2 separate regions of the Homo sapiens genome follow, and region 1 is linked to region 2. Evidence: fine-mapped QTL for protein levels in blood plasma. Region 2 holds a variant in brackets. A gene starts in the other region. All regions are shown on one strand. Distances are between the middles of the regions.

What was found. A credible set is the group of variants that fine-mapping cannot tell apart. PIP is the chance, under the fine-mapping model, that this variant and not a neighbour inherited with it causes the effect. The UK Biobank Pharma Proteomics Project read protein levels with antibody pairs (Olink). The fine-mapping took linkage between variants from a reference panel, not from the people measured, so its PIPs are less certain.
Region 1: it holds the start of KLRF1, and the variant in region 2 is the best candidate, but not a certain one, in a credible set for the plasma level of the KLRF1 protein (UK Biobank, PIP 0.75).

Annotation. Positions count from the first base shown.
Region 1 is chr12:9,815,843-9,828,499 of GRCh38, forward strand. It overlaps KLRF1 (killer cell lectin like receptor F1), which reads left to right and starts at 11,639. Exons shown (of 6, transcript NM_016523.3): 1 at 11,639-11,787. The coding sequence starts at 11,703. It also overlaps the pseudogene GCNAP1.
Region 2 is chr12:112,396,590-112,409,409 of GRCh38, forward strand. It overlaps RPL6 (ribosomal protein L6), which reads right to left. Exons shown (of 7, transcript NM_000970.6): 2 at 11,831-12,067; 3 at 11,651-11,749; 4 at 10,158-10,301; 5 at 9,705-9,753; 6 at 9,264-9,448; 7 at 8,600-8,787. The coding sequence starts at 12,067. The coding sequence ends at 8,635. Among named protein-coding and RNA genes, the nearest start is that of RPL6, 6.6 kb to the right of the region's middle. RefSeq lists an enhancer at 12,647-12,820. The variant A/G (reference allele first, on the strand shown) is at 6,373.

The DNA of each region.
Region 1 (12,657 bases), 100 Mb before region 2:
AGTTTCACTCTTGTTGCCCAGGCTGGAGTGCAATGGCGTGATCTCAGCTCACTGAAACCTCCGCCTCCTGGATTCAAGTGATTCTCCTGCTTCAGCCTCCTGAATAGCTGGGATTACAGGCACACGCCACCACGCCTAGCTGATTTTGTATTTTTAGTAGAGATGGGGTTTCTCCAGGTTGGTCAGGCTGGTCTCGAACTCCTGATCTCAGGTGATCTGCCCGCCTCGGCCTCCCAAAGTGCTGAGATTAAACTGTGAGCCACTGCGCCTGGCCACAGCAATCTTCTTCTCTGCCAGCTGCTTCAATGACTGCGGAGCCCAACGTGCAACAAGGAAGTCTCATCTTCCTGTTCATCAGGATAATGGTCATATTCCTTATTAGAATAATCTTGCCATAGGCATTAGAACCTCTAAACCCAGCACAAACAAGATCTTGGGAAAAGGAGACAATTTTCAAGTGAATTATTAGGTGTACTAGTACAAGGCTACTCCAAATCTGAATCCTAACTCTATGCTTTTGTTCCCATACCTGTACATTCTGGCTATGGCAGAGACAGCAACATATATTGGTAAGGCAAATACCCCCTCTTAAAAAACTGAATCCCACACTTGCAAGCTGTTTTATTCCAACTGGTGTCATTAGTGTGCTTTCAGGAAGTCATTTCAATACCCTGGTTAGCCAGTTACTTAGGGGCAAGTAACTTCTTTTTTTTTTTTTGAGATGCAGAAAACATTCTATTTTTTGATTACATGGCTCAGATAGTTTCATTCAGTGTCATCAGCAATGAACTTCATGAAACATGTTCATCTTTCCTGTCTAGGTAGATGTCACAGTAGCCCTGGTTTTTAAGTGTTGCCTCTAAAACTTGTCCTCTTTCCAGCATTCTCTTCTTTTTTTTTTTTTTTTTTGAGACGGAGTCTCACTCTGTCTCCCAGGCTGGAGTGCAGTGGCGCGATCTCGGCTCACTGCAATCTCCGCCTCTCAGGTTCACGCCATTCTCCTGCCTCAGCCTTCCAAGTAGCTGGGCCCAACACCATGCCCGGCTAATATTTTTTTTTCTTTTGTATTTTTATTAGAGATGGGGTTTCACCGTGTTAGCCAGGGTGGTCTCGATCTGCTGACCTCGTGATCCGCCCGCCTCAGCCTCCCATCCAGCATTCTCTTCTTTCTCTCAACCTGCCACTATTGAAAACTCACTTTTCTTTTGCATTTTGTCCTACGTGTGAAAACTATTGAGCTGAAGTAAGACCCAAGGTAGATCCCAAGGGCTTCAGATCTACCCTGTCAAGGGCACAGAATGGTTAGCAATAGAGCCCCTTGTTAAGGTCAATCATGGTTAATAACATGAATGTTAAATTCTAATATTACTTAACAGTATCTAAATTCTAATATCCTTAATTTCACAAAAACAAACTTTTCTAACACTTCTTACCAGTAAAGGATTTAGCTCACACGAATATACTCTCAGATAACCTTAAGAATTCTGCCTTGCTTTGTAATTCCTGCCAGTGCTGCATAAGCCAGCAGTTCTCAGCATCTTTTTATTCTAGCTGATCTCTAGTTTCTCTGGTAGCTTTTTATCACAGACGGAGCTGTTAAACAGGTCGTAGATTCTCTGAACCAGTTCATCCTTATTTCGCTTGAGATTTTTTTCCAGAGTACTGTTTTGACTTTTCAAGGTCAAGCAAGAAACATCCAGGGACTTTGCGCTTATGAGTCCTAGTCTTGCATTTTTCAACTTTGGCCACACCGGGTTTCTTCTTTGAAGGTCCACGGTTTTTCTGTCCCTTACCAGCAGGTGTTACAGATACATTTTTGGTCTTTGCCTTCCTCTTCCTCAGTGGCTCCACTATATTTTTGGTCTTTGCCTGTCTTTTCCTCAGTCACCCCATGATATTTTTTGGTCTTTGCCTTCCTTTTCCTTGATTATTCCACCACAGGTGCAGGCACTTCCTCAGTTGGCAGCTTCCTCTCTGAAACCTCAAGTTTAGTCTCAGGATCACCTGGTGGTTCACTAAGATTCTCACCAAGATCATGCTCAACCAGCATCATCAGATGAATCATGCTGGCAGACAGCAGCCTCATCCAGCTCTTCTTCATCTGAGGCAGTTTGGTCCTCATCATACGAATCTTCTGCTGGCACAGAAACTTCCAAATCATTACTGTCATCATTGTCATCATCACCATCACTAATAACTATTGGAGGGTTCCTGGATGGTGGGCTGCACATAACAACACTCCAGACTCTCATCGTCACTGCTTATTTAGAATATCTTAGCTTTCTTCTCCTCATAGGAGTAGCATTCATCATCAGAGTCAGAGTTGATCACTACCATAGAGCTGGACTGTCTCTTCTGAGCTCTTCTGGCCATAGAAGACCCGTGGTTCTCATCACTGCTTGAATCAACGTTAAGGATGTATCAATTCTCCTCTGGGTTGTGCAAGTGGCACAGCTCTTCTTTGTACCTGTCCATGTCTGGTCTTGCAGCCTCTGGTGTGGCCAGCGGCAGCTCACCTCCAACTGCCCATGGAATGTGTGTGAGATCCTGAGCAACTGGGCAAGTAACTTCTATAGGCATGAACTGATTGTCAATCTTTCTTTGTTGTAAAATGTCAAATACAATATTGTGTGAGGAACCATGACAATGGATAAGACATTCTGTAACTCTTAAGTATTGATGTTAGTAGAAGCACTGTAGGCATAGAAGGCAAATCTGTTCCTAAAATATGTGATTGTTCCTATGAAGACCAAGCAGCATCTAGTCCAAGATTAAAGAGACTTAAGTAATAAATCTGCCCTTAGGTGACTGGCTGGTAAATCTCCTGGTTCCAGGCATAGTCCATGCCAAAATGAAAATGTTTTCCCCCTAAATTTTGCTTTTATTTATTTATTTTTGTATTTAGAATTAGTCTTAGAATGCCAAAAAAATTGTCAGTATTTTTTTGTCTTCTTCAAGTTATAATATTGAGCAAGTGCAGGTAGCCAACTAGAAGCAGCTAGTGTGTGCTGTTCTCACAGGAGAAATAGAAGGGGCTAGTAAATACAGCACCTTCAACTGAAGCATCCAGTTACACACATTGGGATTCATCAAGAAAACAACTCAATCCGTGGAGGATGAAGTAAAGCAAGGCAGGACGACTGCCCACCCGGGAGCAACATGGAGCCAGGGGAGCCTTCCCCACCCAGGGAAGCAGTGAGTGACTGAGCACCTGGGGGAGCACAATTCTCCCATGGATCTTTGCAACCCTTGGGTCAGGAGATCCCCTTGTGAACCCATCCCACAAAGGCCTGCAGTCTGACACACAGAGCTACAGGGAGTCCTGGAAGAGTAGCCTCTCAGGCACACGCAGAGCCCTGGGAGCCTTAGATACCAGGGCTTCCCAGCAAAAGTGGCTGGGAATTTAGACATCTCTACATCCCTAGGAAAGGGGCTGAATCCAAGGGGCTGAGCAGGGATTGTCCGCAGGCCCTGCTTCCATGGCACCTCACAGGATAAGACCCTCTGGCTTGGAACTCCAGCCAGCCACTGGTAGCAAGGTTATACCTCCCCTGAGATGAATCTCTCAGAAGGAGGGGCTGGACATCATTTTTGCTGTTTTGCAGCCTTAGCCATTGTTGCCAAAATCCAAGGTGACTAAGGATTGGAGAAGCCCCCAAAATAGCACAGCTGCTCTACAGGGAGGCTGCCAGACTGTTTTTTTCACGTGGGTCTTGGATCCCATTTCTCTTCACTGAGCAAAATCTCCTCACTGAGGTCCACAACCACCTCCACAAGTGTTTTTGAGCTGGCAACAGGTCTGTACCCCTCTGGGATGGGGTTTCCAGAGGCAAGGATAGCCCACCATCCTTGCTGTCTTACAGCCTTAGCCATTGTTGCCTTCAGGGAGTCTGAGGCGACTAGGGACTGGAGTGGTCCCCTGGCAGAGCACAGCAGCTCTACAGAAAAGTGGCCAGATTGCCTTTCCATGTGAATCCCAGACCCTGTTTCTCTTTACTGGCTGGAATCTCAAAACCAAGATTTACAACCACCGGGTGTTTTCCAGTTGACAACACGTCTGTACCTCCCTAGGATGGAGCTCCCAGAGGGAAAGGCAGGCTGCCATTTGTGCTGCTTCACAGCCTTCACTGTTGTCACTTTTGGGCGTTGGAGAGTCTGAGGTTATGAGGGGGCTGGTTGGACCCTCAACACAGCACAGCTGCTTTACAAGAAAGTGGCCAGAGTGCTTTTTTATAGCAGTCACTGATCCTGTTTCTCCTCACTGGGTGTGACCACCCAACTGGGATCACCAGCCACCCTCACCAGTGTGTTTGGGCCAGCAACATGTTGGAACCTCCCTGGGATGGAGCTCCCAGTGGGAGAGGCAGGCTGCCATCTTTGCTGTTTCACAGCCTTCACTGTTGATACCTTCAGGTACTGGAAAATCCGAGGTAACTAGGGACTGGAGTGGACTCCCAGAATACTGCAACAGCCCTGCAAGAATGGTGGCCAGATTGTTACATGACCAGACTGTTACCTTGATCCCGTATCTCCTCGCTGGGCGGGTCTTCTCAGCCTGGGCCTCCAGCCACCCCCTGCTGTGGCTCTCGAGCCAGTAGCAGCTCTGCCACTTCCTGGACAGAGTTCCCAGTGGGAGGGGAAGGTTGCCATCTTTGCCGTCTTGCATCCCTCGCTCTGTCTCCAGGCTCTGGAGAGTCTGTGGGGACCAGGGGCTGATCTGGCCCTCAGCACAGAGCACCCACCTCATGAATAAGTGGCTGGACTGTTCTCCACACACATGCTGGACCTCACTTCTCCTCCCTGGGCACAGCCGCTGGACATGGTACTGCAGCACAACCACCCTGCCCCCAACTTACCACTTCAATCAAAGGCAGCCCAGCATTTCTCTGAGGAGGAAATCACAGAGTCAACCCACAACCCCTCCACCACTGCAGTTGCAGCGGTGCTGCCTAATGGCCGTTGGGCTGGGGAAAGAACAAAGGGCCTAGTGACCACACTGGCCCCTCCAGCACACCACAGTCAACATACAGAAAGAGTCCAGCCCCTTTTCCCTGAGAACTTACACCCCCTAACTCTTCACCAGGCAGGGCCCCTGGCTCATGACCACAGAATGGTTGCCCCATACATGGCTGACCATACCCACTGGTAGTGGCTCAGAGTTCCCCTGGGGAGAGGCTTCCAGAGGCATCCAACAGCTCCTCTGCCACAGGGATAGAAACAGTTCTATCCCTGCTACCCTCAGTCTGGGGAAGAAACAAAGATCCTGAGGGCTACACTCAAGCTTACAGCATGCCACAGACACCATAGGGAGAGGAGACCATTCTCTCCTCCTGATTACTCTTAATCCTCTGCTCCCCAAAAAGTGGAATACCAAGCTCATGCCAGCAATGCAGCTGCCCCACCCCCATGGCTGAACACTTCCAGTAACAGCAGCTCTGCATTCCTCAGACATGAGACCCCCAGGGGCAACCAAAAGCCCATCTGCCACTGCCTCTGCAGCGGTACTACTCCTGCTACCCTCAGACTAATGAAGGAGCAAAGACCCTAACTACCTTATCCATACCCCCATCAAGCAACAGTCGACCCAAGGAGAGGAGCAAAGTTCATCTCCCACAGGTCCTGCACACTTCCCCTGCTCATCACCAAGCAGAGAAACCCTGGTTTGGGCCCATAGCACAGATACCCCCATCCTGGGCAGACTGCACTGAGCAATTGCTGACCCACACCTCTCTGGGGTAGAGCCCCTAGGAGGTAAATAAAAGACCTTCAGCCACAACCACTCCTAAGGTCCCTTCTGCTGCTGCCTCCAAGTTGGAGAGGAAACATAAACACTGAGATCACCCCAGAGCTGTGGGGGAAAGCCCAGGAATGACAAGCCATAATCTACAGCCAACACTCAAGTGGGAGAGGATCCCAAACTTTCAGAGCATTGAGAGGCAGCATGGCTGCAACTGTGAAGAAATATAAGGGAGCCACACAACTGATCAAGAGCCAACCAACTGAACACTCTGCCTAAGCACAACCTACTGCATCACATCCCAAAGCTTTAATACCAAACTACTTCACTAACATACCACCCACTCCACTATGAGACCAAAGACAAGTCAGTTGCAAGTAAAGACCCTGCACAAAGCCTCAACCCTGTGAATACATCCAGAAAAGAAGTCTACTGACTATATGCAATCTACATCATGGCTAAAGAAACACTCAAATGCAGAGAAGAGAAAGAAGCAACACAAGAACTCCAGCAACTCAAATGGCCAGAGTTTCTTATGTCCTCCAAATGACTGCGCTAGTTATCCAACAAGGGTTTTAAACCAGCAGAGCTGACTGAAATGACAGAAATAGAATTCCGAATATGGATAGAAATGAAGATCATCAGCATTCAGGAAAATGGTAAAACCCAATCCAAGAAAACTAAGAATCACACTAAAACAATACAAAAGCTGACAGACAGAATAACCACTATAGAAAAGAACCTAACTGATCTGCTAGAGCTGGAAAACACATTACAAGAATTTCACAATACAATTCCAAGTATTGACAGTGGAATTGACCAAGCTGAAGAACTTGAAGACTAGCCCTCTAAAATAAGACAGTCAGACAAAAACAAAGGAAAAAGAATGAAAAGGAAGGAACAAAATCTTTGAGAAATATAGGATTATGTAAAGGCGCCAAATCTACAAATCATCGACATCCCTGAAAGGGATGGGGAGATACAAGCTGGCATAATAACCAACTAACAATACAATGACAGGATCAAATCCACACATATGAATACTAACCTTGAATGTAAACAGACTAGCTGCCCCATTTAAAAGGTGCAGAGTGGCAAGCTGGATAAAAAATCAAAGCTCAATGGTATGCTATCTTCAGTAGAACCATCTCACACACAATGACACACAGGCTTGAAATAAAGGGATGGAGGAAAATCTAACAAGCAAATGAAAATCAGTAAAAAAAAACAGGGTTTGCAATCCTAATTTCAGACAAAACAGACTTTAAACCAATAAAGATGAAAAAAGACAAAGAAGGACATTACATAATAATAAATTCAATTCAGCGAGAAGACTTAACTATCCCAAATATATATGTACCTAGTACAGGAGCACCCAAATTCATAAAGCAAGTTCTTAGCTACAAAGAGTCTTAAATATTTACAAAATAATAGTGGGAGACTTTAACACTCCAGACAGGTCATCAAGGGAGCAAATTAACAAAGATATTCAGAACCTGAACTTGACATTGGACCAAATGGATTTGATAGACCTTTACAGTACTCCGAACCCAGAAAACCAGTATATACATTCTTCTCATTGCCACATGCCACATAATCTAAAATTGACCGCACAATTGAATGTAAAACAATTCTTAGCAAATGCAAAAAAAAAAAACAAAAACTCAAAAACCAAAAAACAAAAAAAGCAAAATCATGCCAAACACATTCTTGGACCACAACGCAATAAAAATAGAAATCAAGACAAAACAAATCACTCAAAACCATGCAATTACATGGGAATTAAACAACATGCTCCTGAATGACTTTGGGGATAAATAATGAAATTAAGGCAGACATCGAAACATTCTTTGAAACTCATGAGAACAAAGATACGACATACCAGAATCTCTGAGACACAGCTAAGGCAGTATTAAGAGAAAAACTTATAGCGCTAAACGCCTACACAAAAAAGTTAGAAAGATCTCAAATTTAACACTCTAACATATAACTAAAAGAACTGGAGAAGTAAGAGCCAACCAACCTCAAAGGTAGCAGAAGACTAAATATAACCAAAATCAGAGCTGAACGGAAAGAGATTGAGATACAAAAGAAACATCAAAAAGATCAACAAATCCAGGGGTTGGTTTTTTGGAAAAAAAAAAAAGTCTCTCATTGGACTAATAATGAAGACAAGAGAGAAGACTCAAATAAATACAATTAGAAACTACAATGGGGATGGTACCACTGACCCCCATGAAATATAAATAACCATCAAAGACTACTACAAACACCTCTATGTATACCAAACTAGAAAACTTCGAAGATATAGATAAATTCCTGGACACATACAGCCTCCCAACACCGAACCAGGGGGAAATTGATTTCCTTAACAGACCAATAATGAGCTCTGAAATTGAATTAGTAATAAATAGCCTACCAACCAAAAAAAGCTCAGATGGATTCACAGCCAAATTCTGCCAGATGTACAGAGCTGGTACCATTCCCATGGAAACTATTCCAAAAATTTGAGTTGAAAGGACTCCTCCCTAACTCATTCTATGAGGCCAACATCATCCTGATACCAAAACTGGCAGAAGCACAACAAAAAAAAGAAAACTCGAGGCCGGCATCCTTGAAAAACATAGATGCAAAAATTCTCAACAAAATACTGACAAACTGAATCCAGCACCACTCAAAGAGCTAATTCACCATGATCAAGTGGACATTATCTCTGGGATGCAAGGTTGGTTCAACATACACAACTCAATAAATATGACTCATTTCATAAACAGAACTAAACACAAAAATCACATGATTATTTCAATAGAAACAGTAAGAGGTTTCAATAAAACCAACACGCTTTCATGTTAAAATCACTCAATAAACTATGTATTGCAGAAACATCTCAAAATAATAAGAGCCAGCTGTAATAAGCCCACAGCCAACATTATCCTGAACAGGTGAAAGCTGGAAGCATTCCCCTTGAAAAGCACAAGACACGAATGCCCACTCTCAACATTCCTATTCAACATAGTATTGGAAATCCTTGCCAGAGCAATCAGGTGAGAGAAAGAAATGAAGGGCATCCAAATAGGAAGAGAGGACGTAAAACTATTCCTGTTTTCAGACCATATGATTATATACCTAGAAAACCCCATACTCTTGGCCAAAAAGCTCCTTCAACTGATAAACAACATCAGCAAAGTTTCAGGATACAAAATCAACATACAAAAATCACCAACATTCCTGTACACCTATACACAACACCCAAGCTGACAGCCAAATCAGGAATGCAATTCCATTTATGATAGCCACAAAAACAATAAAATACATAGGAATACAGTCAACCAGGGAGGTGAAAGAGCTCTACAAGGATAATTACAAAACATTGCTTAAAGAAATCAGAGATGACACAAACAAATGAAAAACATTCCATGCTCATGGATCAGAATAATAAATATCATTAAAATGGTCATATTGCCCAAAGCAATTTACAGATTTAATGCTATTCCTATCATACTACCAATGACATTCTTCACAGAACTAGAAGAAAACTATTTTAAAATTCATCTGGAACAGAAAAATTAGCCCAAATAGCCAAGGCAATCCTAAGCAAAAAGAACAACACTGGAGGCATCACATTGCCCAACTTCAAATTATACTACAGTACTACAATATCCAAAATAACAAGGTACTGGTAAAAAAAAAAAAAAAAGCAGACACATAGACCATTGGAACACAATGGTCTAATGCAGACACATAGACCACTGGACAGAAAGCCCAGAAATAGTGCTGCACAACTACACCCATCTGATCTTCAGCAAAGCTGACAAAAACAAGCCATGGGAAAAGGATTCCCTTTTTAATAAATGGTGCTGAGATAACTGGCTAGCCACATGCTGAAGATTGAAAGTGGACCCCTTCCTTATACCATATACAAAGCTCAACTCAAGATGGATAAAATACTTATGTCTAAAACCCCAAAATATAAAAAACCCTGGAAGATAACCTAGGAATTACCATCCTGGACACAGGAATGGGCAAATATTTCATGACAAAGATGCCAAAAGCAATTGCAACAAAAGTGAAACAAAACAAAACAAACAAACAAAATAATTAACTGTAAGAGCTTCTGCACAGCAAGAGAAACTATCAACAGAGTGAACAGATAATCTACAGAATGGGAGAAAATTTTTGCAGACTATGCATTTGACAAAGGTCTAATATCCAGCATCTGTAAGAAACTTAAACCAATCAACAAGCAAAAAATAAACAACCCCATTAAAAAGTGGACTAAGGACATGAACAGATACTTTTCGTGTTTTATTTATCAATCTTAATTTACTTCTTATCCATTTGGAGTGTCAAATAATGGCCAAAGAAATTGTAATTATAAATTAAAGAACAAAATTTAGCAAGTAAAAATAAACAAAAATAACACAAAAATGTATTATCCTTTTACTTTTGTCATTAAGCAACAAATATATTTCTGATAATTTGTCAAATATTTTCTCCTTGAATTAATAGTTTATCTTATTTAAAAGGGTATATTGTGTTTTTAAAATTTTATTTTAAATTTGGGAGTACATGTGCAAATTTGTTACATAGGTAAACTTGTGTAATGGGGGTTTGCTGTAAAGATTATTTCTTCACCCAGGTATTAACCCTAGTACCCATTAGTTATTTTTCCTGATCCTTTCCCTCTTCCCACCCTCTATCCTCCAGTAGGCACTAATCATTAGGGAAATGCAAATTAAAACCACAGTAAGATACCATCTCATACCAGTCGAATGGCTATTATTAAAAAGTCAAAAAATAACAGATGCTGATGAGGTAGTGGAGAAAAGGGTTCACTTATACACCTTTGATGGGAGTGTAAATTAGTTCAACCATTATGAAAGATAGCATGGTGATTCCTTAAAGACCTAAAACCAGAAATTTGACCCAGCAATCCCATTACTGGTATATACCCAAAGGAATATAAATCTATCATAAAGACACATGCATGCATCTGTTCATGGCAGCACTGTTGACAATAGCAAAGACATGCAATCAACCTAAATGCCCATCAATGGTAGACTGGATAAAGAAAATGTGATACACATATACAAAGGAATACTATGCAGCTATAAAAAAGAATGAGATGATGTCCATTGCAGGAACATAGATGAAGCTAGAGGCCGTTACCCTTAACAAACTAATGGAGGAACAGAAAACCAAATACCACATGTTCTCACTAATAATTGGGATCTAAATGATGAGAACACATGTACACATAGAGGAGAATGACAGACACCGGAGCCTACTTGAAGGTGGAGGGTGAGAGGAGGGGCAGGATCAGAAAAACATAACTATGTAGTACTAGTCTGAATACCTGGGTGATGAAATAATATGTACAACAAACCCCTGTGACATGATTTTACCTATATAACAAACCTACACATGTAGCCCTGAACCTAAAAGTTAAAAAAAATCAAATTATACTGTTAAATTATTAGCATGATTTATAAACAATATTGTTTTAGGATAAAGAATTTAATTGCTTGGCAATTGCAAATTATTAAATTAAATATCAATATGTTAGGGAGGCTAATTCAAATGATATAAATATTTAGGCTATAACAAAAGGCAGCTATATATTATTAACCTCACCTCAAAAAGGGGCATAATTTCCATTCCCTTGACTTTAAGGGTAAATTAAGAGAAATTTGTAAAGCACTCAAAAGAATATTCAATTCAATATGTGGTGGACAGTTGAGAAATTATGTGTTATCTATGTCATGGGAAAGCAACTTTTAAAAAGAAAACATTTCCTCTGAGGTTTTCACAAATAAGTGAAACTGTGAACCCTCATATGTACTGTGAAAGGACAATTTGAGGAGCATCTCTGATTAGCAGCAGATTTATTATTCTTTCCTCATTTCATGTTATACTTAATAAAACAAAACATACCTGTATACACACACATTCACTCACATTGAAGATGCAAGATGAAGAAAGATACATGACATTGAATGTACAGTCAAAGAAAAGGAGTTCTGCCCAAACATCTCAACTTACATTTAAAGGTATGGAATTTAATTTCATTTTTTCAATTGGTGTGAATTAACATGGTAGTTTCCCGTATCCTGTTCCATTGTGTTATTGGACTGTTTCAGTATTTGGGTGCTTTTCTTTCTCCGTCTCTGTATCTCTCTCACCTGTCCTCTCTTTCAATATTAATAATGATTTAAAAATAACAACCTCTCTTACCATTTAAGAAACACCAGTTTCCGGCACTATACAGAATGTTTTATCTATGTTCCTTCATTTAATCTTACAAATTTACTATGAGATAATCTCTCTCTCTCCCATTTATCAATGTGGAACTAACACTTACTTGTAATATTTTGTCTGATATAATTTCTTAAGGACATTCTCTGAGGAAATATGCATACTCAATTAAAATTAATAATTTCAAATTAGTGAATATTTGCTGCCATTCACCTCCTTATCATTCATAGAATATGGTGTTTTAATGCTATTTTTTTTTTTTGAGACGGAGTTTCACTGTTGTTGCCCAGGCTGGAGTGCAATGGCATGATCTCGGCTCACTGCAACCTCTGCCTCCCAGGTTCAAGCAATTCTCCTGCCTCAGCCTCCTGAGTAGCTGAGATTATAGGTGCCCGCCACCATGCCTGGCTAATTTTTTGCGTTTTTAGTAGAGATGGGGTTTTACCATGTTGGCCAGGCTGGTCTTGAACTCCTGACCTCAGGTGATCCACCCACCTGAGTCTTCCAAAGTGTTGGGATTATAGGCATGAGCCACCGCGCCCAGCCTTTAATACTAATTTTTAATTCAACTTCTCAAAAACTTTATGCTTTTCACCAAGTTGACTCAAAATAAAGTTTATACACCAGCAATCAACATTTTAATTTGCTACTTCAAGCATACCCTC
Region 2 (12,820 bases):
TTACATAATGGTAAAGGGATCAATGCATCAAGAAGAGCTAACTCTCCTAAATATATATGCACCCAGTACAGGAGCACACAGATTCATAATGCAAATTCTTAGAGATCTACAAAGATACTTAGACTCTCACACAATAATAGTGGGAGACTTTAACACCCCATTGTCAATATTAGACAGATCAATGAGAAAGAAAATTAACAAGGATATTCAGGACTTGAACTCAGCTCTGAACCAAGTGGACCTAATAGACATCTACAGAACTTTCCACCCAAAATCAACAGAATATACATTCTTCTCAGCACCACATAGCACTTATTCTAAAATTGACCACATAATTAGAAGTAAAACACTCCTCAGCAAATGAAAAAGAATGGAAATCATAACAGTCTCTCAGAACACAGTGCAATCAAATTAGAACTCAGGATTAAGAAACTCACTCAAAACCACACAACTACATGGAAACTGAACAACCTGCTCCTGTATGATTACTGGGTAAATAACAAAATTAAGGCAGAAATAAATAAGTTCTTTGAAACCAATGAGAACAAAAACACAATGTACCAGAATCTCTGGGACACAGCTAAAGAAGTGTTTGGAGGGAAATTTTTTTTTTTTTTTTTTTGAGACAGAATCTCGCTCTGTTGCCCAGGCTGGAGTGCAGTGGTGCGATCTCAGCTCACTGCAACCTCCGCCTCCCGGGTTCACGCCATTCTCAAGCCAAAATTGACAAATGGGATCTAATTAAACTAAAGAGCTTCTGCACAGCAAAAGAAACTATCATCAGAGTGAATAGGCAACCTACAGAATGGGAGAAAATTTTTGCAATCTGTACATCTGACAAAGCTTTTTTTTTTTGAGACGGAGTCTCGCTCTGTCACCCAGGCTAGAGTGCAGTGGCGCGATCTCTGCTCATTGCAAGCTCCACCCGCCGGGTTCACGCTATTCTCCTGCCTCAGCCTCCCGAGTAGCTGGGACTACAGGCCCCCGCCACCACGCCCGGCTAATTTTTTGTACTTTTAGTAGAGATGGGGTTTCACCGTGTTAGCCAGGATGGTCTCGATCTCCTGACCTCGTGATCCGCCCACATCAGCCTCCCAAACTGCTGGGATTACAGGCGTGAGCCACCGTGCCCGGCTGACAAAGCTTTAATGTCCAGAATCTACAAGGAACTTAAACAAATTTACAAGAAAAAAATAAACAATCCCATCAAAAAGTGAGTGAAGGATATGAACAGACAGTTCTCAAAAGAAGACATTTATGCAGCCAACAAACTTATGAAAAAAAGCTCATCATCACTGGTCATTAGAGAAATGCGAATCAAAACTACAATGAGGTAATCATCCCATGCCAGTTAGAATGATGATCATTAAAAAATCAGGAAACAACAGATGCTGAAGAGGATGTGGAGAAATAGGAATGCTTTTACACTGTTGGTGGGAGTGTAAATTAGTTGAACCATTGTGGAAGACAGTGTGGCGATTCCTCAAGATTCTAGAACCAGAAATACCATTTGACCCAGCAATCCCATTACTGGGTATATACCCAGAGGATTATATATCATTCTACTATAAAGACACATGCACACGTATGTTTATTGCAGCACTATTCACAATAGCAAGGACTTGGCACCAACCCAGATGCCCTTCAATGATAGACTGGATAAAGAAAATGTGGCACATATACACCATGGAATACTATGCAGCCATAAAAAAGAATGAGTTCATGTCCTTTGTAGGGACATGGATGAAGCTGGAAACCATCATTCTCAGCAAACTAACACAGGAACAGAAAACCAAACACCACATGTTCTCACTCATAAGTGGGAGCTGAACAATGAGAACACATGGACAGGGCCAGGCGCAGTGGCTCACGCCTGTAATCCCAGCACTTTGGAAGGCTGAGGCGGGCAGATCACGAGGTCAGGAGATTGAGACCATCCTGGCTAACACGGTGAAACCCCATCTCTACCACAAATACAAAAAATTAGCCGGGCGTGGTAGCGGGCGCCTATAGTCCCAGCTACTCGGGAGGCTGAGGCAGGAGAATGTCGTGAACCCAGGAGGCGGAGGTTGCAGTGAGCCGAGATTGCGCCACTGCACTCCAGCCTGGGCGACAGAGGGAGACTCGGTCTCAACAAAAAAAAAAAAAAAAAGAACACATGGACACAGGAGGGAGGGGAACATCAAACACTGGGGCCTGTCAGGGAGTTGAGGGCAAGGGGAGGGATAGCATTAGGACAAATAACTAATGCATGTGGGGCTTAAAACCTAGAAGATGGGTTGATGTGTGCAGCAAACCACTATGGCACATGTGTACCTATGTAAGAAACCTGCAAGTTCTGCACATGTATCTCAGAACTTAAAGTATAATAAAAAACAAAAATATAGGCCAGGCTCAGTGGCTCACGCCTGTAATCCCAGCACTTTGGGAGGCCGAGACGGGCGGATCAAAAGGTCAGATCGAGACCATCCTGGCTAACATGGTGAAACGCCGTCTCTACTAAAAATACAAAAAATTAGCCGGGCGTGGTGGCGGGCGCCTGTAGTCCCAGCTACTAGGGAGGCTGAGGCAGGAGAATGGCGTGAACCCAGGAGGCGGAGCTTGCAGTGAGCCGAGATCGCATCACCGCACTCCAGCCTGGGCAACAGAGCAAGACTCCGTCTCAAATAATAATAATAATAATAATAATAATAGTAATAATAATAATAAAAATATATAAAAAATAAAAATAAAAAAAGAATACCAAATTGGGTGGGAGATATTGTTGCCATCTTTTGAATAATATGATCTACCTCAAGCCCTAAGAATACCGAATGTAGGCCGGGTGCGGTGGCGCACGCCTGTAATCCCAGTACTTGGGAAGGCCAAGGCAGGCAGGTCACTTGAGGCCAAGAGTTCGAGACCAGCCTGGCCAACATGGAGAAACCCCATCTCTACTAAAAATACAAAAATTAGCCAGGCTTATCACGAGGTCAGGAGTTCAAGACCAGCCTGGCCAACATAGTAAAACCCTGTCTCTACTAAAAATACAAAAATTAGCCAGGCATGGTGGTGCATGCCTGTAGTCCCAGCTACTTGGGAGGCTGAGGCAGGAGAATTGCTTGAACCCAGGAGGCAGAGGTTGTGGTGAGCTGAGATTGCACCACTGCACTCCAGCCTGGGTAACAGAGCGAGACTCTGTCTCAAAAAAAAAAAAAAAAAAATTAGCCAGGCTTGGTGGCTGGTGCCTGTGATCCCAGCTACTCGGGAGGCTAAGGCACAAGAATCATTTGAACCCGGAAGGGGGAGGTTGCTGTGAGCTGAGATGGTGCCACTACACTCCAGCCTGGGTAACAGAGTGAGACTGTCTCCAAAAGACAAAAAAAAATTAAGAATACCTAAAGTTTAATCTACAGGGTTTTAAAAGTCAGAAGCAAGTCGACTTCTAAAAACTGGGGCAGGCACAGTGGTTCATGCCTATAATTCCAGCACTTTGGGAAGCCGACATGGGAGGATTGCTTGAGCCCAGGAGTTCAAGACCAGCCTGGGTAACATGGTGAGACCCTGTCTCTGCAAAAACAAATAAAAACCCAGAAAGACAAACAAACAGCAACAACAAAAACGAGCTGGGCATGGTGGCAAGCACCTGTAGTCCCAGCTACTCAGGAGGCTAAAGCTGAAGGATCACTTGAGCCAGGGCAGTCCAGGATGCAGTGAGCAGTGGTGATGATGCCACTGCACTCCAGCCTGGGTGACAGAGTGACATCCTGTCCCAAAATAAAAAATAAATAAAAACTGAAAAATTCATTATTTCTGGCACGTCTTGAGTTTAACAGGCTGAAACTCATAGTTGCTACTACTCTTCATCTTTTTTTTTTTTTTGAGACAGGGTCTTGCTCTGTTGCCCAGGCTGGAGTGCAGTGGCATGATCATGGCTCACTGCAAACTCTGCCTCCTGGGCTCAAGCGATTCTCCAACCTCAGCCTCCCGAGTAGCTGGGACCACAGGCGCCCAGCTAATTTCTTTCTTTTTTTTTTTTTTTTTTTTGTATAGACAGGATCTCATCATGTTGCCTGGGCTGGTCTTGAACTCCTGGGTTCAAGTGATCTTCCCATCTTGGCCTCCCAAAGGTCTGGGATTACAGGCGTAAGCCACTGCACCCAGTCAGTATTAGCTAATATTATTTGATCCTTTAAGACATCATAACAGGCTGGGCACGGTGGCTCACGCCCGTAATCCTAGCACTTTGGGAGGCCAAGACGGGTGGATCACTTGAGGTCAGGAGTTTGAGACCAGCCTGACCAACATGGTGAAACCCCATCTCTACTAAAAATACAAAAAATTAGCTGGGCATGGTTGCTCATGCCTGTAATCCCATCTACTTGGGAGGCTGCGGCAGGGGAATCGCTTGAACCCAGGAGATGGAGTTGCAGTGAGCTGAGATGGTGCCATGGCACTCCAGCCTGGATGACAGAGCAAGACTCCGTCTCAAAAAAAATAAATGAATAAAGACACCATAACACAAAATGTCACCTGACATTTAAAGGATAGGTAAAGTGGTTGGCGTCTAAGGCCAGACTGCCTGTAACTGCAGCCTGACATGGCGATTCTTGGGCAACTGATTTACCTGGGGAGGTGCTCTTAGAAACTACCTGTAAGAGCTGGTCACAGTGGCTCACGCCTGTAATCCCAGCAATTTGGGGGGCCAAGGCGGGTGGATCACTTGAGGTCAGGAGTTTGAGACCAGCCTGGCCAACATGTTGAAAACCCCTGTCTACTAAATATACAAAAATTAGCCGGGTGTGGTGGTGGTGGTGTGTGCCTGTAGTCTCAGCTACTTGGGATGTAAGGCAGGAGAATCTCTTGAACCTGGGAGGCAGAGGTTGCAGTGAGCTGGGAACACGCCACTGCACTTCAGCCTGGGCAACAGAGTGAGACTTCATCTCAAAAAAAAAAAAAAAAAACAAACAAAAAAACAAGAAACAAAAAAAAATCCAGGCCCAGTAGCTCACTCCTGTAATCTCAGCACTTTGGGAGGCTGAGGCAGGCGGATCACGAGGTCAAGAGATCGAGACCATCCTGGCTAACATGGTGAAACTCTGTCCCTACTAAAAATACAAAAAATTAGCCGGGTATGGTGGCGGGCGCCTGTATTCCCAGCTACTCGGGAGGCTGAGGCAGGAGAATGGCATGAACCTGGGAGGCGGAGCTTGCAGTGAGCCGAGATCACACCACTGCACTCCAGCCTGGGTGACAGAGCGAGACTCCATCTAAAAAAAAAAAAAAAAAAAAAAAAAAAAAAAACTTGCATGAGTGTGGTATATTTGTTATAACTGATGAACCAATATTGATATATTATTAACCAAAGTCTATAGTTTGCATTTGGGTTCACTTTTTGTTGTTTTTGTCATGAGCCACCACACCTGGCCAGGGTTCGCTCTTTGTGTTGCACATTCTATGGGTTTTGACAAATGGATAATGACATATATCCACCATTCTAGCACCATACAGAATAGATTCCTGGTCCTAGAAATCCTGTGGTCCACCCGTCCATCTCTCCCTCTCCACCCACCACCCACGTGCAACCTTTGATCTCTTTGCTGTCTCCTTAGTTTTGCCTTTTCCACAATGTCAAATACCTGGAATCATAGAGTATATAATATGATACAGTATATGAAAGAAGCCCTTTCCACATGGGCTTCTTTCCCTTAGCAATATGTATTTAAAGTTCCTCCACGTATGTTGTTGCTTGATAGCTCATTTCTTTTTATCACTAAATGATGTCCCATTGTATGGATGTACCACAAGGTTATCCATTCACTCGTTGAAGGACATCTTTATTGCTCCCAAGTTTTGGTAATTATGAATAATGCTGCTATACACAATTATGTACAGGTTTTGTGTAGACATGTTTTCAGTTCATGTGTAAATCGTATTCCTTTTTAACTTTTGTATTTATGCACACATTTATATAGTTGTAAAACTAAGCTTATATATTTTTTTCTTTTCTTTATTCTCCCTGGGAGCATAGATTCAAGTTGCCATGAATATACACTCCCACGTATACTTTTTTAAAAGTGATATTTTACATAATTTTCTGCAATTTGCTTTTTAAGATAACAATAATCTTTTGTTATAAAAGCAGTATATGTGCTTTTAGAAAGTTAGCTCATGTGGGTAAGTAAAAGAAAATAAAGACACATGCCAGGCATGGTGGCTCACGTCTGTAATCCCAGCACTTTGGGAGGCTGAGGCAGGAGGATCACTTGAGGTCAGGAGTTCCAGACCAGCCTGGCCAACATGGTGAAACCCTCTCTCTACTAAAAATACAAAAATACAAAAAAAAAAAAATTAGTTGGGCAGAGTGGCAGGCGCCTGTAATCCCAGCTATGC[A/G]GGAGGCTGAGGCAGAAGAATCACTTGAACTTGGGAGGCAGAGGTTGCAGTGAGCCGAGATGGCACCACTGCACTCCAGCCTGGGCGACAGAGCAAGACTCCACATCACTTATGCCACATTCTATTGGTCAAAAGGGGCAGAATCTGTTTGATCCCAAATCTTTGAAACAATGCAGAGGCTAGTGCAATGATTCTCAAAGTAGGATCTAGGGATCTTTTTTTTTTTTTTTTTTTTTTTTTTTGAGACGGAGTCTCGCTCTGTCGCCCAGGCTGGAGTGCAGTGGTGGGATCTCGGCTCACTGCAAGCTCCGCCTCCCGGGTTCACGCCATTCTCCTGCCTCAGCCTCCCAAGTAGCTGGGACTACAGGCGCCCGCCACTACGCCCGGCTAATTTTTTGTATCTTTAGTAGAGACGGGGTTTCACCGTTTTAGCCGGGATGGTCTCGATCTCCTGACCTCGTGATCCGCCCGCCTCGTCCTCCCAAAGTGCTGGGATTACAGGCGTGAGCCACCGCGCCCGGCCGGATCTAGGGATCTTTAGATGTTCCTGAGATCCTTAAAAAGGGACCTGTGAAGTTAAAACAATTTGTCATACTACTGTTAAGACATTGTCCTTTTAACTCGAGTGTAGAATGGAGTTCTCCTGAGGTGTAATACATAATGTGATACTGCAATAGATTGAATAAAGCAGATATAAGAATCTGTCTCCTACGAAGCCAGACATGAAATACATTTGCAGAAATGTAAAACCATTGTCCTCATAATTTTTTGTTTTGGAAAAATTATTTTTTTAGAGACAGGGTCTTGCTCTGTTGCCCAGGCTGGAGTGCAGTGGTGCAATCACAGCTCACTGAAGACTCGAACTCCCAGGCTCAAGCCATCCTCCCATCTCAGCCTCTCAAGTAGCTGGAACCACAGGTACACGCAGGCTGGGCTTATTTATTTTTTGAGACAGAGTTTTGCTCTTGTTGCCCAGGCTGGAGTGCACACATTACAGGTGTGAGCCACTGTGCCTGGCTCAAGTTTTTTTTTTTAATAAAAATGTTACTTATATAAACATGACATGTCATTTTAAAATATTCTAGCAACTTTTTTTTTTTGAGACAGTCTTGCTCTGTCGCCCAGGCTGGAGTGCAGTGGTGTGATGTCACTTACTGCAACCTCTGCCTCCCGTCCAAATTCTCCTGCCTCAGCCTCCCGAGTAGCTGGGATTATAGATACCTGCCACCATGTCCAGCTAATTTTTTTTTGTATTTTTAGTGGAGATGGGGTTTCACCATGTTCGCCAGGCTGGTTTCAAAATCCTGACCTCAGCTGATCAGCCCACTTCGGCCTCCCAAAGGGCTGGGATTACAGGTTGAGCCATGGCACCCAGCCTTTTTTCACCTTTTTTGGACACAGGGTCTGTCATCCAGGATGGTGTGCAGTGGTGAAATCACAGGTCACCACAGCCTGGACCTCCTAGGCTCAAGTGAGCCTCCTGGCCCCACCTCCCAAAATGTGGGGGTTTCAGGTGGAAGCCAGCACACACAGCCCATTTTTCATTTTCCATTGGCAAAAATCCAAGTTTGATAACCTACCTATAAGAAGATGGGTACTCTGTACATTTCCAGAACAAATAAAGTGGTCTAACACTTGGGAGTGTTTGGAAGAATCTGCCAAAATTAAAATGCACAAATCTGGCAGGGTGTGGTGGCTTATGCCTATAATCCCAATACCTTGAGGTCTAGGCAGGAGGATAGCTAGAGCCCAGGAGTTGAACCAGCCCAGGCAATAGGAACTGGGGCCATATGTGATAAACGTGCCCATGAACAGCCACTGCACTGGCCTGGGAAACAAGAGCACGGCCTCATAATTATTGGGGAGGAGTTGAGAATTGAGCACAGCGGGGAGAAATGGGAGTTTGTTGTCTGAGTAGTCAGCAGTTATTCTCTTCTCTCATCCATGTACAGTTTAGCACTGACTTCTTCAGGGACGAGTGAGAAAATGCCACCACTTCACAATGGTAGAGGGTGGGTGAAAAAGTTATTAGCCAGGCACCAAGAACCAATCTGAAGCCAAGAACAGCAATGCAAAGCCAACAAACTAGCTCTCTTGTAGACACCACTCCCTTCCAATCCCATTCTCTACTAAGGAAAACCCCCAGGTGAGCTGGCATGGTCAAACTACACCTTCAGGTAGGTAAGAATTTTTTTTAAAAACCAAAAATTAAAAAAAGAGACACAAAATGTAGTCAGCTATTTAATTAGGTTCTTAAGACATTTAGAACACCAATTTGTGAGGATAAATTCCATTCGTCAGAGCAAACACAGATCGCAGGTAGCCCTGGAGCTGAGGAATAGCTTTGATTTTTGGTAAAATTTGTGAGTCCACAGCTTTCTGATCAATCTTGCGCTGCTCCGTAATCTCATATTTCTAAATAAAGAGAAAATCAAACATTTTAAAACAGGCACATACCAAATTACTTGTAGGTCAACTAAGGAGTCCTGTCTCACAAGTACTAATCCCCAAGAATATTTAGAAAACATTAAAGACAATTTTGACAATCCTTTCCTTGGAATGCTGTGAAACACAACCCATTTTTTAATGTAATAAAAGTAGCTCTTAAGCTTTTGTATACTTTAGGACACATCAAGGATAAGTAAGGGCACATTCCCAATACGATGGTAGCAGTTAATTCCCACACAATTCCACCAAACTTTAGGATTCTAAGTTGAGCTCCCAGACTGCCAAAAGAACTACTCAATTTAGAAGAATCTGGAATACTAAGTATCTCCCAGCATTCCTCATTATTTAACCTTTCATTTTTCTTCTTTTTGTGCAACCTGTTTCTTTTCACTCCCAGGTAGAAGGGCCAGTGCTAACACAGGAGATGACAAGTAGAAACTTACCTCTTTTTCTGTGTCGAAGATCTCACCTTCCTGGTGTCTGGGCTTCCGCAGCTTCTTCTTCTTGAAGTAAGCATCAGTAAGATGTTTTGGGATTTTTACATTGCTGATATCGATTTTGGTTGAAGTGGCAATGACAAATTTCTGGTGTGTTCTTCGTAGAGGAACTCGATTGAGGACCAGAGGTCCTAAGGGGGAAAAATTAATTTAGCAAGGAAAAGGGGGAAGAATCATCATCCTGCAATTTAGGTGACCATTACTTGTTATGTTGCTACACAAAGAAGACCACTTGTCTAACCCACTTGCACACAAGGCAATGAAATGGGCCTCAGACACTTGTGGCAATAAGTGTCTACCATGTAGGCAGTAGCAAACAAACGTGTATACTGCAAGCATTTAAAAATGGAAGTTTCACAGAACATCACAATCCAAGGATTTTCTTACCAGTCACAAGTAATAAGCCACTAGCCAGCTGCTTCAGGAAAACCACCCTCTGTAAGTTAAAAAGAAAATAATTAGTTTTCTGCAATTAAAAACTGACTTCTGAATTCATAAAATCACAGGCATCTAAATTTGGGTAAAGGAAATTTCTACATGTATATGTATACAGCTCGGCAGTTCTGGAAGCAACCACAGCAAGCTACTAAGGTAGTACTCCAGACATAAACACGTTTTTGAGTAAATGAACATGTGTAACATAATCAACAGCAGGAAATGGCTAATAAATCACCATGGATTACACTTCTTATTTGCAACAACTAAGTTGTATCTTGCAGATCATTTCCCCTTGCCCCAAACATAGGTAAATAAAGGAAAAGTACACCTAGCGTGCAAACGCATTGCCACCAGGCACCCCAGGCAGCTGCAGTGAAGCGCCCCAAGCACAGGTACTCTCACCTTGCCCCTGTGGCGTCCAGTGAGGATGATCAGAATGGTCCCGGGGGTAATGCTGGCTCGCAGTTTTCTCACGTGCTGACTGAAGGGTTTTTTGCCGTGGCTCAACAGCTTTCGAGGCACATCTTCAGTAGGATAATATCTAGGCTGTGGAGAGTCCATAGATCCAACTTATTTAAATAAGCCATTCAGATTACTAGAAGCAAGCTATGTCAGCCAAACTTTTGCTACAGCCTTTTTATTTTAAAGTATAATACTGTATTTATATGATTCCATTTTCATTTCTGCTAAGTAGACTTGGAAAAGGTCAATTATGCTTCTGCATCCTGTGTGCAAAAAAGGAGACACCATTTAATGAATGAGATGTGTGCTCAAGCAAAGAAAGCATCAAGCAAGTCACCTTTGCAATCTTGAGCAAAAACTAAACCTCAGAGATTACACGTGTGACATGCCACATTTTGCAGATTAGGGATACATGGCTTGTTTTCCAATTCAAGTAAAGTGTGTCCATATCCTAGCCACTTCATCTGATCCTCACAGCAACAAGTCTTACTCCCACTTCATCCACAAAGGAAAACAAATTGCATAAAGCCAGACACTAGGACTGGCAGATCATTTATTGCAGAAGTTAGACACCATGCAAGGGCCATTAAAGACATGACTACAAATAACTCACAATAACCTATTTCCAACTATACCATATCATTAGTGCAGTCTCACTTTCACCACAAACATGATCACCTAATGGGAAAACGAGTTCACAAAACAACTGTCATCTTCCCTCTCATGCAGTAATCTTCAACTGTGAAACTGTATGGTGTTAACTTATTTGGGAATGTTCCCATAATGAAAATTACAGAGCAAATCCTGAGATTACATTGGGTCTTGTGTGTGGTAAAGGGGGCCAAGAAACACTGCTCTAGTGGGAAATGTTCTATAGAACAGGCTATGTATTATTTCATTTAATCTCCATAAAAACTCTTTGAGGTAAACCCTCATTCCCATCTTATCTTTTTTTGAGATGAAGCCTCCCTCTGTCGCCCAGGCTGGAGTGCAGTAGTGCAATCTCTGCCTCCCGGGTTCAAGCGATTCTTCTGCCTCAGCCTCCAGAGCAGCTGGGACTACAGGCACGCAACCAGCTAATTTGTATATTTTTACTAGAGATGTGGTTTCACCATGTTGGCCAGGCTGGTCTTGAACTCCTGACCTCAGGTGATCTGCTCGCCTCAGCCTCCCAAAGTGCTGGGATTACAGGCATTAGCCACCACACTCAGCCTCATTCCCATATTATATGCAAAGGAACAAAGCACAGACGAGTAATTTAAATTACTTAAGATTAACAGTAAATGTTGAAGCCAAGTTACAAACCCAGAGCCCTTTATTTTCTATCAGAAATTCTCCGGTATGCAGAAACTTACAGTATCTAAGTATTCAAAAACATCTTCACAGTATTCAAGCATAAACAGAAAATCCAATTTACAGTCCCCACATCTTACCATTTTGCGAAGTTTAACCACCCGGGTACCGCCGTTCTTGTCACCACCAACTGGTTTTGTAACAGTTGCGAGAACCTTCTCCTTCTTTTTCTTTTCAACCTACAAGGACACAAATGCATCAACAGTAAGAGAATGCCAATTAAGGTTAAGACATAATGGTCCGTGGTCCTCTTCCCTTACCTTGGATTTAGCGGCTGAGTACTTCCTCTTGTACATGGCCTTTCTGGAATACATGGCAGATCGGGAATACCTGCCAATTCCTCTGACAAGGACAGGGTTGCGGCTGCAATGGGGCTTCCCCTTCTTGGGCTTTTTAGCTTTGAGGTTACCCTTTTTCACCTTGCCACCAGCATCAACCTTCTTGGCTTCGGGTTTCTTCTCTTTAGTATCTGGCTTCTCAACTTTTTCACCCGCCATCTAAAAATATTTTTTTGTAGATAAAAAAAGGCATTTCACCAGTCATCTCTCTAACAAGACAATAATGAACCTGTACATGAATGGGCTGGGCTCCCCAGACTACAATCCCTCCCCCGGTAAGATACAGGCCTTCCTCTCAAACTCTACCCATTCTACTCCAACCTTCACTATGACTCATTTGGGGTTTGTCTCCCCAATACACTATAAACTTTTTTTTTGAGAATTTGAAACTACCTCACACCTATTAGGTTTTTTGCCAAATACTGAGCGGTCAGAAGTCCGTACAACCATTATTTTTTATTACTGTTTTGCGAATTAGAAAACTTAGATGCAGAATGTGTCCACAGGTTAGAAGCACCAAGACCAGAACTTGAAATCCCTTACTTTCAGTACCTTTCGTCTTAACCCTTAAGACCAGTGTCTCTTTTCAAGAAACTCGATTTAGGAATTGCGGACACAAACGGAATCAGCCCAAATTGAGCCAGAGAAAAAGATCGCAAAGACCAAGAGGCGACTTCCGGTCGGGGACGCTGGGAGACGCGAAACCTTTTGGCTTCAGTGCGGAACCCCAACGTGGCTGCGACAGGCTCAGTGTCATCCTCTGGAACCCAGGACCAGGAACACAGTGCACGCGCCGTCTCCCCGCTTCCTCTAACACCCACCAGTCTGCTACGGGTCCCCGAAAGGGCCTCGTTCCCCCAGCCCAAGAGAGTGGCGAAGAACCGGAGGGAGCCACTACGGCATTCTACCTCA